Regions from separate parts of the Homo sapiens genome. Here region 2 is linked to region 1. A link means that fine-mapping ties the variant in region 1 to the plasma level of a protein whose gene starts in the linked region. Region 1 holds a variant in brackets. A gene starts in the other region. All regions are shown on their reverse strands. Region 1 overlaps DHRS9 (dehydrogenase/reductase 9). Region 2 holds the start of FETUB (fetuin B).

The links. A credible set is the group of variants that fine-mapping cannot tell apart. PIP is the chance, under the fine-mapping model, that this variant and not a neighbour inherited with it causes the effect. Protein levels are from antibody-based Olink assays in UK Biobank. Linkage for the fine-mapping came from a reference panel and not from the study's own genotypes, which makes the PIPs less certain.
Region 2: it holds the start of FETUB, and the variant in region 1 is the best candidate, but not a certain one, in a credible set for the plasma level of the FETUB protein (UK Biobank, PIP 0.79).

The regions. Positions count from the first base shown.
Region 1 is chr2:169,073,648-169,081,985 of GRCh38, reverse strand. DHRS9 (dehydrogenase/reductase 9) reads right to left here. Exons shown (of 5, transcript NM_001376924.1): 2 at 92-463. The coding sequence starts at 404. Among named protein-coding and RNA genes, the nearest start is that of DHRS9, 8.3 kb to the right of the region's middle. The variant C/T (reference allele first, on the strand shown) is at 4,755.
Region 2 is chr3:186,636,561-186,644,898 of GRCh38, reverse strand. FETUB (fetuin B) reads right to left here and starts at 4,500. Exons shown (of 7, transcript NM_014375.3): 1 at 4,214-4,500; 2 at 3,759-3,869; 3 at 2,341-2,428; 4 at 1-148. The coding sequence starts at 4,438. It overlaps HRG-AS1 (HRG and FETUB antisense RNA 1), which reads left to right. Exons shown (of 3, transcript NR_187317.1): 2 at 2,771-2,945; 3 at 3,276-3,390.

The DNA of each region.
Region 1 (8,338 bases):
GCCATTTAAAACTTGAGCATGTTTTATTTAGCTTTGGTTACCTCCCTATCCCCTATCCCTGTCCCATCCTACCCACTTCCATGTCTCTCACCTTTCTCCCCAACTTGGTTCTTCACCCACTGGGCAGTCCTCTTGACATTCTCTGGGTCGGTCACATCCAGAAGCACAGTACGAAGTCTCTCTGAGGTTTCTGCCTTTAAAGCTGTTGATCCTGATTCAGTCAGACAGGCAGCGATTACATGAAATCCCTTTTTATCAAAAGTTCTGGCTGCCAAGTTTCCAAAGCCCGAGTCACATCCAGTGATAAAAATGTACTTATCAGTGATGTCTTCAATCTTTAGTTTTCCTTTACGAGTCCACAGAAAACCACAGAGGATTAGGAGGCCTAGCACCCAAAAGAGCATTTTTCCCCCTGTGTGTGATAGGTACACTCCTTTCTTGTATAATACAAGAAGATGGTGTCCTGAGTGTTCAAAGTGAAAAAGAAAATTCAAATTAGAACTACCAAGGCATTATAACCCAGGACTGATGAATTTGAGATATTTTAATGCATTAGTGTGGATAAATAGAAAGTTAAAGAAACAATAACTCTTATTTGGTTGTTTGTTGGGAAGATGGCCATCTAAATGATAAATCGTTCCTCTAAAGTAATGCAAAAACTAACCAAGGAGTATTCAGAGAAATTAAATGGAAGAGAGGGAGAGGGGAGCCATGGCAAAATTGACACAAGCCATTGAGTTGCCACGGCCAGCTGGAGCTATGTGGAGTGATGGTATTAATCTCAGGAGTGAACTCGTCTATCAGGAAGACAGACCCTCACAGTAAAATCTTACCTCTTGCTAGTTCATGAAATTCCACTGCAGAATGGGCTTAAAATCTATTAGAAACAATAATTCAATTTTAATTGTTCTGTCAGACTCCCAATTATCTTCAAACTGTCAGGAGAAGAAGAGCATTTTTTGTTGCCACTAAGATATTCCCAACTTGGCTTCCATTTTCTTATTTTAAATGGGTTAATGTCAATCTTCAACCCAACTCTGAGATCATTACACCCCAATGCAGATGAGTATTAAAGTGGGAGGCAACAAGTGAGTTCACCAAGAAAGGGCAAGATAAATGGGAAGTGACTGAGAGGGAAATGCTGGCCAATGCACCATGTCCCAAACCAGACTCCCACATCCCCAAATTCTGTCTTCTGTGAACACCAGTCTCCTGTGAGAAAAAAATCACATGGACAAAGGATAAAGCCAAGCAAATGTATGCTGTAAAACGGAAGCTTTGACCATATGTGCAGCAGAACTACTTGGAAAATTAATTTTGTCAGGGCTAGAGGTAGCCTAGGGCCTAAAATCAGGCAGGTAGAGGGCTTTCTTTCCTTTTTCTTCAGAAGCCTGCATCTGCGTTTCCCCTCAGCATATATTACTCTTACCATGGGGTACTGGTGCCAGAGAAAAGCAAGCCATCCAGAAAGAGGAAGTGAACAAGAACCTGAGGTTTATGCCTGGGTGCCAAGGCTGTATGGCCAGCTGCCTCAGGTCTGAGTACCATGGGCCCAGCCCTCCACACTCAGTGATGGGGCAGCCCAAGAGAATGAGATCATCAGCTCCCTCCCCACAGAGGAGCAGGTCTGTGTTGGCTCTCTGAGCCTGTGGAAGGGAGAGGGGCTAAAGAGAGAACCACATGTGGGAAAGACCTTATTTTCTTCCTCCATGACCCAAAAAGCTTCCTCCTGTGTCCACGCAATATCTTTGCCCTTAATCTTGACCCACCCTGAGACTCCAGAGGGGCTTTAAAATGCCTCACAGAGGACAATCAATAGGCCCTGAGTTGAAGTTCAGAACTTGTGGGTGCTTTTGGAATCATGGCTGTTCCTGGACACTGAGTTCAAAAAGGAACTGAGAGGCCAAGCGAGTTTATAGACTTTGGACTTTATTTTCTTTCTTTCTTTCTTTCTTTCTTTCTTTCTTTCTTTCTTTCTTTCTTTCTTTCTTTCTTTCTTTCTCTCTCTCTCTCTCTCTCTCTCTCTCTCTCTCTCTCTCTCTCTCTCTCTCTCTCTCTCTCTCTCCCCCTCCCTCCCTCCCTCCCTCCCTCTCTCTCTCTCTTTCTTTCTTTCTTTCTTTCTTTCAGATGGAATTTCGCTGTTGTCGCCCAGGCTGGAGTGCAGTGGTGCAATCTCGGCTCATTGCAACCTCCACCTCCTGGGTTCAAGAGATTTTCATGCCTCAGCTTCCTGAGTAGCTGGGATTACAAGCACCTGCCACCATTACAGGCACCCGGCTAATTTTTGTATTTTTAGTAGAGGTGGGGTTTCTCCATGTTGGCCAGGCTTGTCTTGAACTCCTGGCCTCAGGTGATCCACCTGCCTCGGCCTCCCAAAGTGCGGGGATTACAGGCGTGAGCCACCACGCCCAGCCTGGACTTTATTTTCTTACAATTATTTCCTAATTTTTCCTTCGAATCCTTTTCAAAAATCATTTATTTTTTTCTGCTTGTAAAAGTAATTTATCCTCAAGAAAAAACATAGAAAAAAAGAAGATAGTAATGATTATAACACTTGATTCAATATTTTAGTGCATTTTCCCCATTTTCTTCTGTATTTGTAAAGTTTTCTTTCTAGATCAAGAAATATAAACATACACACAGAATTTTAAACACCACACACACAGACACACACACACTATTTTTACTGCTGTTTGAGAAACAGACTATTTCAGATTAAAAAAAATCAATGTAATGTCTTCTTCACTTCTCAAGAAAATTTCGGGCTCTGCTTTTATCTTTCTTCCCCCAGAAGATCTATAGCTAAAGAAAAAAAAAATGATAAAAGAATTGTCAGTTCAGCCGGGCCTGGTGGCTCACTCCTGTAATCCCAGCACTTTGGGAGGCAGAGGGGGGCAGATCACAAGGTCTGGAGTTTGAGACCAGTCTGGCCAACATAGTGAAACCCCATCTCTACTAAAAATACAAAAAATTAGCTGGGTGTGGTGGAGGGTGCCTGTAATCCCAGCTACTCAGGAGGCTAGGGCTGGAGAATCAGGCAGGAGAATCAGGCAGGAGAATCGTGAACCCAGAAGGTGGAGGTTGTAGTGAGCCGAGATCATGCCATTGCACTCCAGCCCTGGCGACAGTGCAAGACTCTGTCACAAAAAAAAAAAAAAAAAAAAAAAAAAGTCAGTTGATAAAAATTAAGTCAGAGGAATATAAAAATATGTTTGGAGAACCTACTTGATTCTTGTGGTATAGCTACAGCTATTTCTGAAGTAGTCAACTTTTTAGATTACCATGGCTTAATAATTTGGTATAGTTTTTCCAACTCTTTTCTGTGTAAGAGTTATAATTTGTTGCAAATCAATGTCCATGTAGCAAGATTTCCCGTTCTCAAATACATTATAAATGTATAATTATGGGAGGGGAAGTGGTATAACTAACTCTTGCAAAATTACATGTTTAAACCTTTTAAGGAAATTTTGTATCTACAAATTCAACTAATATAGCGTTTTGCTCAAATCTGGCTTCAGTAAATAATCACCGAAAGGCGAAATGTTTAATATATTTTCTGAATGGATTCTGCAGCTTTCATTGCAGTCTAAACTCCCAGGGGAATTATTTGAAGAAGACAAATATTTGTGGGGTTTTATGTTCTCTAGAGCAGAGAGTTGGAAGTTTTTGTGTTGTCATTTTTACCAGGGGCATGCACGAGGGAGTCACAGTAAAATAATGTCATACATTAGTAAGGCACTCTATGCTGTGCTTTCACACACAGGTCTCATTTTGTCCTCTCAATAGCGTTTTGAGTTAGAGAGGGCATATTATTTGCCTTAGAAACTGGCTCAAAGCAACAAAGTGATTTGCCAAGGTCACTGGGACTAGAGTGCTGTGTCCTTCCACTATAGGAGACAGATGAGGGGCTCTGGGGACTGGAGCACTCCACTCTGGGCTGGGCTGAGAAGTGTCCAAGCTGACAAGCTGAGTTGATAAGGTCGACACTTCACATCTTGTCCATGATTGCTGAGAGGCAGGGATAAAAGTCCACTGGCCAAAAGCAACATCTGACATCTGAAATAGTTGTGGCTACAGAGTCATCTCCCCTCATAACCTCCTCTGTTATAGTATAATAACTGACACAAGGTCCCAGAGGGGAAAGTAGATGAGGGAATGGGGGAAGGGAAGCCACAAGGAGGGTATGTTTCATGCATGTTCCTGTGCATGAAACTGGGTTACCAGCCCCTAAGGGATTGAATTCAGTTGGATGGATGATTTGGGCATCTATGAAAGCTTCTCAGACAAAAGGGTGCCATTAGAACTTTGAGAGAGTCTGTGGATAGAATTCAGGGGTTTCTACATTTGGATGGGAAAAAGATCCCATCTTTTTTTTTTTCCTGAACTGTAATTGAAGTTTAGCACAATCTTCAATTACGGAAGAAACAACAAACCGCAGTAGTATTTGTATTGCCTGTGATTTTGTTACCAATAGAAATAATAAATATTTTCATGTTACATTGCATTTGTTGGAATTATCTCAAAATATGATTAATGCTGATTACTACTTCAAAATTATGGTGGTTATTGTTCCTGCCACCATGTTAATAAAATAAACTTATAAATATTTGGATGTATTTCAATACAGTAGTTTTCTTTTGTAATACTATGTATTTCACTTCAAGTGTTAAAAAAGTTATTCTCACTTCTGAGGTAGCTGTAGTAGTGACAGTCATGTCAATCCAAATTTCCTAGGACGTACTCCAAAAACTATG[C/T]ACAATTCAAAGAGAAGAACAAATAGAATCACATAAAATCCAAGCCTCCACCAGAGCTAGAAAACAGACAACCCTATTATTTCAAATTATTTGATTGAGAAAATAAGCACAGCTGACATCTGAACAACGTGGGCTGTTGGATCCCATATTGGATCCAAACTGCCTGGATCCACTTATGTCTTATTTTCTTCAGCCTCTGCCACCCCTGAAACAATAAGACCAACCTCTCTTCTTTTTTCCTCCTCAGCCTACTCAACATGAAGATGGTAAGGGTGAAGACCATTATGATGATCCACTTCCACTTAAAAAACAGTAAGTATATTTTATCTTCCTTATGCTTTTCTTAATAATATTTTCTTTTCTCTAGTTTATAAGAGTACAGTATATAATACATATACAAAATATGTGTTAATTGACTATGTTTTTGGTAAGGCTTCTGGTCAACAGTAGGCTGTGAGTTAAGTTTTGAGGGAGTCAAAAGTTATACATGAATTTTCGACTGAATGGGGCACTGGCGCCCCAATCCCTGTGTTGTTTAAGGGTCAACTGTAACTAAGCTGTGGATGATGGAAGCCAGGCTTCACACTGTCAGAAGGAGGAGTAGCAAATATGAAAAAGGAGAGGCTGGAATGAACTCTGTGGAGTGGGATTATAGTTGGAAGAATCAGTATGAACTCCTGGTTTTTAATATGAGTCAGTAAATACAAAAATGGATAGGTAACTTTCTAGATCTACCCGATGAGCTAGAAACAATGACACTCCAACAACAATGAACATACCAAGGGCTCAGAAACCAATTTCTAAACATTGTGTTCATGTTCTTTGGAAAAGCTAACATCAGGGCTGAGCTTGGAGGCGAATGTACAAAATAAGCCTGGAGCATCTTATGCTACAAGTAAGTAAGTGCTCAACGAATGCTGGAGATACATCACTAGTACATAGATGTCAGCTGGAAGGGGCTCCCACTGGCGAAGTAAGAGACAATTTGAGCATCAAAGCCAATAGTGATAATGGGTAATAACTCATTAAATCAGATATGAATTCATGAATCCATTCTGAAGTAAATCAATCAATAAATAAGGATAAATGGAAATTTTTCCTTAGAATTAATATGCCATCTAATAAGTGTCAGACGAATGATGGAATTAGAATATCACCATTTGGCAACTGACATAGCAACAATGGTTTCAGGCAGGAATGATCAATGGATGCTAAAACTAGTGGGTCAAATTCCGATGACAGACAGTCATTATAGAATCTCAAAGAATCTCCCTGTCATATACTTTCAAATTAAAGAGAGAATAATGGTAATTTTATAGTGGAGAAATCTGACGGATACCACCTTAACCAAGTGATAAGGATTCACATCACTAGTTATGGAACAAACCAACATCGCATGCCCCCTGAGATGGCACACAGGGAAGGACACAACAGCTCTTCTGTGGAGCATCCAAAGCTAATTATGCATGGGGAAACATCTTCCAGTGCTTCTAAATATATGGCTGTACTCTTCAAAAACATCAAAGTCATGAAGTAAAAGAAATACTGAGGACCATTTCAGATCAAAGGAGACCAACGAGATACAACAACCAAATGCAATATGTGATCCTGGATCAAAATTTTTTTTTCTTTTTTCAGAAAGAACATTATTAGGCCAGCAAGTGAAATTTGAATAAGATCTTAAAATTTGATAAATAGTATTGCATTAATATTAATTTCCCAATTTTGATAATTATACTGTGATGATGTAGAACATGGCCTGCTTTTTAGGAAATACACACTGAAGTATTTAAAGAGTAAGGAGCATCATGTCTTCAACTTACTCTCAAACAGTTAAGAAAATAATAATGATATGTATATAAATAAACATTAAAACCACACATGCACCTATGTATATAGAGAGGAATGAGAAGGCAGATGTGGTAAAGTGTTAATATTTGAGGAATCTGGGTTGTCCTAGTCTCTAAATTTTTCAATAATTCTGAAATTATTTCAGAATAAAAAGTTAAAAATTTGGCAAAGGAAAGTAAAGCTTTTTTTTCTGTGAAAAGATTTTATTAGGCTACTTTGGATGTCATGCACAAAATAAGTAAGAACCCCAGACTTTTGGAGTGTAGTAACTTGTATACCACATTGCCTGTCATCTATGCTTTGGTAAGCTCACCTCTACAACTACCAAAGAAGAACGAAAGCTCAAATCTAAGTAGTTGGATTCCCTCTTTACTCCTTGTCCATTCTGCTTCCCCCTCAATCTCCACCTTTTCTATGCAAACCCATTTTTCCCTGGTGACAAGCAAAGAGGAAATTTTGCTGTTAAGAATGGACTCACATTAAAATGTATTGTCCTCATTAGGTACAGCTCTGGACTGAGGGTCATTTAGGCCTACAGTCTGAATCCTAGGGACTGCCAATGCTAACCTAGAGTTTTGCTACACTCTCCTTAACTCAAGTATTATTGCCCAGAAATGCTGGTTCAGATTCCTCTAGATCACTCGACTAAATCAACCACAAACACACACATATCTTTGACCTCTAGTAATATTTTAGCCACGATGCCAACTCTGAGCAGCAACCTGGGTCAGAGCCATGGGAACATGACCTATACACAAAGCTGATTGATGGCCAATTGGTTCATTGACCACTGAGAAATAAATTAGTAACAGCAACTAAAAGGCTAATAGGGCTACCTCAACCACACTACGCCAGCTGTGGTTACCTCTGCACGGCCCCTTGGTCCCAACAATTCAGAAACTCCAGGAACTGACCTGGTTGCTTGAGTTGTTTGCTTATCTGCTGTGTCTTCCAATTTATCGCACAACAAATTGCTTAATAGGGCGTAAATCTCTTGGCTCGAGGCAGTAGAGCAGTAGTTAGGAGCCCAGACCTCAGAAGCAAGCAGGCAGAGGTTCCATCCCAGTTTCACTATCATCAGAGGGCCCTCGGACAAATTAACTTTTCTTAGCCTCCATTTTCCTACCTGTAAAGTAGAAATACAACATCTACCTTGGAGAGTACTGGGTGAAGTGACCTAATGTCTGCCGTTACAGTAAGAACTTTGTTATCTTCATGGCAGGGTGAATCACTTTCACTTTATGAGGCAGTCTGCTCTATGTATTGCTCATATTTAGGCATTGATTCCTCTAACTGAGTAATTTTGATATTTTGGGCCAGGTAATTATTTGTTGTGGGGTCAGTCCTGTGCATTTAGCATGTTTAGTGGCATCTCTGGCCTCTACTCTCTAGTCAGCAGTAGCACCCCTCCCCAAGTTGTGAAAACCAAAAATGTCTCCAGATAATGCCAAATGTCCCCTGGAGGACAAAATATCCCCCAGTTTAGAACCACTGTTCTAGAACTTCCTAGTGTTGGGAGTCCAGAATATCATAGCACTAGAACTACTTTTCTGGAAACTTAGTCATTGGTTCCTTGGTAGTATCACATTGATGAGTTTCTTTTTTTAATGGCCTCATGGAAAAGTTGGGTTACTTATAAAAATTACTCATATCCTGCTGCTGCAAGCATTAATTTCCCTCTATATAAATATTTTAAAATGTCTTTTTGTCATCAGGAGGATAAGAGGCTGATA
Region 2 (8,338 bases), not on the chromosome of region 1:
TTGAAGAGAGAATACTGCTTGGATGTGTTCTCATTGTTGTATTTCGCAAGAGACTCGGTGGCAGCCTCCAGCACTTGGTGATTGGAAGAGTCAGTGGGTATGGAGCTTGGGCAGTCAGGGCACGTCATGTAAATCTTTTTTTTTGAAACTGTTGATGCCAATAACATAAGTTTTTAAATGCTATTAATTTTCAATAAATCATATGACTGTAAAGAGGCAAGGATGGGGTGAGGAAGTTACCTCTGGAATATACCCCTGGAATAGAAGTTAGCTGTCAGCAGTGTTTTCTGTAATGACCATGTATTACTTTCACAATTAAAAAAGAGACCAGAACAAAGCAAAGTTTTCACCTCACACACATTTACTCTGAGAATTTTGTTCAAAGACACATAATATAGTATATTAAAATAGGACCTTTTCCTCCAACTAGTTCACTATCTTTTCTCATTATTGACCCTGTAAAGTAGACTGTCTTCAGAGATTGGGATTTCATTACCGCAATATCTTATTTACCTTTCAGTTCCTAACACCGAACATCATATCTGATACATAGGCAGTGCTTAGTAAATGCTTGTAGAATGAATGGATAAGTGAATGGCATAGTAGAAGGCAGAAGCGCACCCCGTTTGGTTAGAAATGCAAGTGAGATCTGTCAAAGGATACAAAATTACAGCTAGATAGGGGGATAAATTCTAGTGTTCTGGACCACTGTAGGATGACTACAGTTAACAATAAGATAAAATTTCAAATAGCTAGAAGGGTATTGAATGTTCCCGACACAAGGAAGTGATAAAGGTTTGAGATGATGGATATACTAATAACCTAATCCGATCACAATACAGTATATATATGGAAATATCACTATATATGCCATAAATAGGTATAACTATTATTTATCAATAAAAAATAAGACTAAATATTTTTTTAAGAAGAAAAATGCAAGTGAGCCAGAAAACAAAATGGGTCAAGTCACTGTGTGACTGAGTAGAATGATCACATTAAGTACAGTCAGATTTCTGTTTGGGAGGAGCTGAGGTCAATAAGCCTAGTGTGAAAGTCAAGGTACAGAATTTATCTTGAAGCTGCTTTTGCAGAGCAAACACATTGTTTTTAGAAATTTTGTGTTTATCTGCATGCACTTGGGGACTGGTGGAGATAATGGGGGACTTCCAGCTACAGCTTGTCACTCCTGAATCATCACCACCTGTCACTTCCTGACCTCCCATAGCTCTGATACTTATGACTTCCATTTAAGTCCTGAGACTGTTTACTACTTGCTGTTCTGTGAATCTTGCCTTCACAACCAGGAACCTTAAACTGTGCCTAACAAAATGTTTGCTCGCTTGCCTTGTTATTCAAAGCAACCAGCAGCATTCTTATCTCCTGGAGCTTATTAGAGATGCAGGATCTCAGGTCCTGACCAAGACCTGTGGAATCAGAATCTACACTTGCACAGGATCCACCAGGGGAGCGACACGCACGTAGTTGTTCGACAGGGGACCAAATTCTGTTTTCCTGCACTGTGGATGCTCTCTTTCCAAAGACCTTCCCTTGAAAAAAGGAAGGTCCCAAATGAATGCATGTGCATATTTCAAGTGTCATTAAGTTTCAGCCTCATTTCTAGTCCAATTATTTACTTAACAACATTATTGACACCTTCTACTTGGTGGGAACTGAGGAAGGGTGCAGCAGGAGGAGGAAAGGAGAAACTATTCTACATGATGTAAGATATGCGACCCTCAAATCAAGGCAGTGCATTATGTGTTCCCTGAGTAGTTTAGACAAAATTTTATAGGAATGCAGATTACAAAAGCACCATTCCTTTCTAGAATAGAGAACACTGTGGAAGAAGTGGTGTTGGTCCTTAAAGAATAGGTGTGTCCCAAGGTCAGAGGTCATCAGGGGAGGGCATGCTCAGCAGAGGGAGAGGCACAAGCAAGACACAGAGACTGGAAATTGCAGTGCATGTTCAGAAAACAGGGTGGCATCCAGTAGAATGGAGTGAAGAGTTGGTGTAGTCTGGGAAATAATGGCAGAGATAGCAAGAAAGGAAGCCTGAGGGAACAGTCATAGAAATTATACCATTTATGTCAGACTGAAAATGTAAGATCTGATGCAGCATATAAATGTAGAGGTAGTTTAGTAAGATTAATTGTGGGAAGAGGAGCAGTATAGTATGAATTTCAGTAAGGAGGTAAGTACTGGAAATATTAAGAAACTGGCATTAAGAATAAACAGAAAATAAGAATGAGAGATACCCTATACATTCTTGGCAAAGACCTGGTTAAGTACTCTTTTCCATCCTTTATTAAAACTAACAAAATCGTAGTGATTTCTTACCTGGGCGAAGAGTACAGTTATAAGCAGCTAAATAGAGAACTCTACTTGGGTTGTTCATATAAAATATTGCTTTGCATTGACCATAAACCTGAAACCAACAAATGCATTTTATGACATAGCGAATGCAACTATGAGCTTTTAAAATACCTCCAAAATTAAAGTCAGACATTTTCTTTTAAAGTAGTTAGAAACTTAAGATCAAATTCTGTGGTTTTGGCTGGGAGGAACTGCAGTTGATGATCAAACTGTTTAACCTTTCCCTAGGACACAGCTAGAATATGTTTCCAAGCCTCCCCAACACGTGTGACTGTGTATAATTGAGTTCTAACCACAGGAAGGTGAGCAGAAGTGAGGTGTAACCATTTCCAGATCTGGCTCATAAGGGTCTCCCACGTTCTCACTGTCCTCTATGCTCTTTCTCTGTGCACAGCTTGATGCAGATGAGCAGGTAACCATGGAAGTCGTGAGCTGAGGCTGCAGAGTCTAGAGCCAGAGTGTGGAATAAACTTGGGTCTCAAATCACCCCTGGAGCAAAGCACCCATCTAATCAGGAACTTCTACTTTCAACTTTACATGCGTGAGAAATGAACTTCTATCATGTTAGAGTGAGTATACAGTTTTTGTGTCTGTGTTTTAGTAGCTAGTGTCACCATAACAAATATAATTCACAACAGGATATTCACTTTTCAAAATCAAGTTGGGTACAGTTTGACCAATTGGCTACATGATTAGGAAAATATCTTGATCAAATAGTTTTCTTCTAAACACTTACATCACTATTCTGTACTCACACTGTAAAGTTTTATATCAATTACTGAAAATCATCCCAGGATAATTAAGAATGAAATGAAATGGATTATCTATTTTCAAGTCTCTTCTATGATCATCTTTAGAAGATTAATTCTGAGGCCCTTTATTATGCTCTGTGGTTTCAGGAAATCCTTACACGGCGCCCTTGAGAGCTTTCATACTGCAAGTCATCCATTTTCCTCCCCTCAAACCTGGCATCGGAGTTTATTGAAACAAAGCAAAATAAAACAAATAGACAAAGCTCTACCTCCATCACTTCTGCAGTCTACATTAACCCCACGTCCAGAATATTCACACCTCAGGTCTTTTTCTCACAATTGAAACACTGGTTCAGAGCCTAACGGAAGGTCTTGGAGGTAAAAACACAACTTGGGGCAACTTTTCCATTCTGTTCTGCATGACCCCAATGGGACTTCTCAGAAACCCCTCTCATGAATTAAACTTTGTTCTGTCTAGAGCATTAGAATAAGCTTATGGGCACCTGCCAGGAGATTATAAAGTGGGCCATTTAAAAGATGACAGATATTGAGCACCCTTGACCCTGTAGAAAGAGTGTACCTACTTGCTTTCCCTAGGGCCCTTAATGGTTTATAAAAACAAGCACTCACTGATTCAAAAAATATCCTCATTCCACAGTCTTGCCATGCCTTCTTTCTGAGCACATGGCAGTCAGTCTCTAGCACATCCAGTGTAAGATAGAACAGAGATCCCAGGCCACCCTGTGGGAAGGGGTAGAGAAATGCAATACATTTCACAGGAAGTAGAAACCTAGAAAGACCACACAAAAAAACCCCTGCTTTATGGCAAAGCCAAAGAATATTTGTGAAGATTCCCCGTAAACCATTAAATCTGACACAAGTGTCAGAGTAGGATCACTGTTAACACTTGTTTTTACTAACAATAAGTGCGTTGTTGCTGACCCTGGCAGAGGAGAACAGAGAGTTCTCGGCAGGGCTTCCAATACAGAAAACACCTGCCAGGGTGTCTCTGGGTTCCCTCACCCTGGCCAGTCTCTCCAGCTTGCCCACATCCCTGCCCCAGAGTGGGAACTGTCCCTACTTGCCCGTCTGTATTCCTGGGCGTCGTTCACTCGGTTGAGTCTCAGCACATAGCCATCCTTTCTGTCTTTGTTAATATCCCGCAGGGCAAAGCCTGCAACTGCCAGCACATCTGAGTCATTGCAGCCCCGGGAGAGCAGAGCCGAGGGGTTGAGGGCCAGCTGGGGTGGAGACATTGCTCCGCAGCACAGGACTAGGATGCAGAGTGCCAGGGGAAGGAGCAGACCCATTCTGTGGAGAACAAGGCCCAGGATGGGTCAGTTTGTGGAGCTGCAGGGACTGGCTGGCTTGTAAGGCTCTTTAAGGCAGACTTGAGCGGTTTTGTTACAACTGGAAGGGCTAACCAAGTTCACCTTGAATTCTGAACTTGGATTTTCCTAAGTCAGTACTTTGGATAGCATTTCCCAATGATTCTAACCTTAGACCCTTGAGCAACCTCATATCCACCTGTACATACAAATGAATTTAAGTTTCCCAACTGTTTCCTGAGAAATCATAACATTTGTTCAAGGCTCTTATGATTAGATTCTGATTTGCAGGTCCCCTCCTGAATAGGAATATGGAGGACTGTCCCATTCTCCCCCTCTCCCCTAACACCTTTGCTGTGGAGGTCTCCTTGGCCACTCTAATAGTTATCTTATGTCCCAGTGGTGCTTGGTGAATTCAGACTTCCTGGCTGACACTCTGTGTGCAAAGCCCTTGTTAGATCAGGGAGGTAGTTGAACCCCACAGTCATCTGCCAGAAGCACAGTTGAGATTCCTTAAGCACTTTGGCCATCTGGGTGGAAAATGTTCTACTTATCATCATTTAAGTTATTTTTAAACAATGACTTTACTTAAGGGGAAAAAGTCAAAGAGATATAAAAAGTTCTCACATTGTATTTCAAGCCTATTCTTCCTTTTATGCATATGTATGGAAGCAAGCTCATTAAGAGACTAAAGCCCCATACTCTTGCTAAAAGAAAGATACTGAAGGGCAGGTGGGTGGCAACACATTGGTTGGGACTCTTGCCTTCTTTTTTTTTTTTTTTTTTTAGCTTCTATTTGTGATTCAGAAAGGTTCTACTTATTGGGACCATACAAAAGACAATTATCTTTTAAAAACTGTATTTCAACAAAAAACACATATCAGCAGTAGTTTGTCATGAGAGAAAAGAGACAAAATGGGAAAGAAGCCTCTAGAAGAGGTTATCATGAAGGGCATTCTATAAAGCCCTAGTCCATGAGGTGAGTAACCACCCCCTAACTCTCTCCCTACTCCTAGCCCTTCTCTTCCTTCCTGTCCCTGTCCAAGGATTCTGCATTCAAATAAGTTTAGGAACTGCTGAATCCTTCTGTGTGCTTGCTGGTACACAGTGGTGGCTATTGTGTAATGCTGAGAGGATTATCCTATCCTGATGAGGGCTCCACCCTCATGAATGGAATATGCCATTATCTTGAAAGTGAGTTCCTGATAAAAGGATGTGTTTGGTCCCCTTCTCTCTTCCTTTCACCTGTGTGATGCCTTCCACCATGTTATGATGTAGCATGAAGGCTCTCAGCAGGTATAGCCCCTCGATCTTAGACTTCCCAGCCCCCCAAACCATGAGCCAAAGTAATTTCTGTTCATTATAAATTCCCTGGTCTCTGATATTCTGTTATAACTACATAAAACTAACTGAGGCACAGCCCTAATTAATTTCTGGAGAGAAATAGTTTTTGAGGATTGATTGAAAAACCCAAATCTAAAGATCCCAGCTCTGTGGATGTGGGCTGTAGGCATTGTTTTCAAATAGGAACGATACTAGCAAAATGGGTACAGAAACCAGACATTCAGATTCTGGGGCACAACAAAGGTTTAGCTTCAGCCAGTGAGGAGACAAACATTCATTGAGCTTGAGCAACGTACAGAAAGAGGTTGAGAAGGATCTGGGGCCTGAGGATGCAGAACAAAGAGGAGGAGAATGGTCTGGGACCTGAGGAATATATTAGACTTATATAGGTGAAGGCCATGAGTGCAACTAAAATAAAAGGCAGGACTCAAACAGATAAAAAGATCCAATAACATGGAAATCGTGCACCACCACTTATGCACCTGGGTTTCAACCCAGTCTCAAACAACCTGAGCTGGCCTTCTCCTAGGCTGTGGAGTATGGGAGCCCTGGGAGAGGAAGCAGGGGAAGAGTCCAGCCTTTGGTGTCAGGCAGTCTTGGGTTTAAATTCCACCTCTTCCACTGCACGGTAAGAGGGCCTGTGACACTGGGTGTGCCACACAGCATTTTGTTTCCTTATTCATAAAACAATGGCACTCCCAGCATATGTATACATGCACAGTTGCACCTGCCTGTAGAAAGAGAATAGAGTTCCTCTTTCCCTAGAAGCCCAACCCAGGTACACTTGTGTTTGGTTCCCATCACATATGGGAACAACTTTAGTATCAGCATGGAAGTTAAATTTCTGCTCAGGAGTGAAGAACAAGGCTGTGGAGATAGATCAATCTAGGTTTTGTTGAATCCAGTGTGTCTAATAGAAATACAATGCAAGTTACATATTTAATTTTAAAATTTCTGGTATCTGCATTCGAAAAGTAAAAAGAAACAGATGATATTAATTTTAACAATATTTTGCTTAACCTGTCAATCCAAAATATTATAATTTCAATATGTGATTAACATAAAAATTATGAAAGGCACAGTTTACATTCTTTGTTTCACACTATGGCATACCCCAATTTGGAGTAGCCACAGTTAAGACGCTCAAGAGTTGCATGTGGGTACCTTATCAGACAGCCCAGGTCTAGCTCTTGGGAGCCTCAGGCTCCTCCCATGTAAAAGGAAGGTAGCAGGATTCTCCATCTCCTGAGGTTGCAATATGGACTTATCACAGGGGAAGTATGCAAAGGTGCTTAGCACAGCCCTGGTGCACAGGACGTCCAGAGACAATGTCCAAGGACAGCTGTCAGTGCTGTGACTGTACCCTGTGGTCCTCACTTTGTCTCCCACGGTGCAGATTCTTATGTGACTCTGCCAGTGGCCTTTTTCTGGTTACACTTGAATGGATGCATCGCCAGGTGAACCAGGTTGGGAGAAACAAGGCTGATTTTCCCTGAGTGAGGAGGGAGAGGCAGGGGGCTCCCTGGCCTGCCCACCTCCTGACACAGGTGTGATCCAGGGCAGTGACTTAGGATTATTGATTTGAGAACAGGGAGAGATCAGACAGGTGAGACATTGTTGGCTGCAGAGCTGAGAGAGACACAGCACACGTGATTAGGCATCTGGGGAATTAGAAATCTAGGTACCAAGTCTTGGCCTAAGGGGACAGGATGTGTACTTAGCAAAACTGGACGGCAGCCATGGCTCCAAAATACCAGGTGGGAGCTGCCTGGTACATGATGGTCTCTACAGCTAGTTGCTGTGTTTCTCTCTCTCTTCCCTTTCCTCCCTTTATCTTTTCTTCCTTCCACAAACACTGAATGAACATCTCCTCCAACCACTGCCAAAGCCCGGCACTATATATGAAACTGATATTTCTCAGTGTGTGCCCAGCCCTGTGCTAAACACTCTGTGTTCCTTCTCTCATGTAAGCCCATGACCAACCGAGGCCTGTAGGTGCCACTATTATTCCCATTGTACAGATAAGGAGGCTGAGGAACAGAAAGGTTACATTGCCTGCCTGAGGTCTTACAGCCAGGGTTTGCATCCAACCTATGTGGCTTCAGAGAAGAAGGCATGGTTCTTGCCCTCAAGGAGTGGATGCTAGGAACGCACCAAGGGGAGAAACTAGTTCTACTGGGGAAGTCAAGACAGGCTTCCTAGAGGGGGTAACATTCACTCTGGAGCTTGAAGGAAGAACAGAGTATGCCTGAGGCACAAGGCAGGGAGCGTATTTAACAGAGCGTTCACTTTTCCTGCAGGAGCTGTAAAGGCGAAAACTGTAAATCACGTCGTTTACTTTCTATGTCCTTGCAACTTTCGCAGCTGTCTCCTCTGTCATTGGGATAGTATTTGCTGCTCCCAAACCACCTGCTAGCCTCAGGGCTACCTTGTGGCAGTTTCTCCTTGACTCCTTCCTGAAGTATCCTATGTTTGGAATCTCCCTCTTCCTCTTACTTTTATCAGCCATATTTAGACAATGTGTGGAAAAAAATCAAA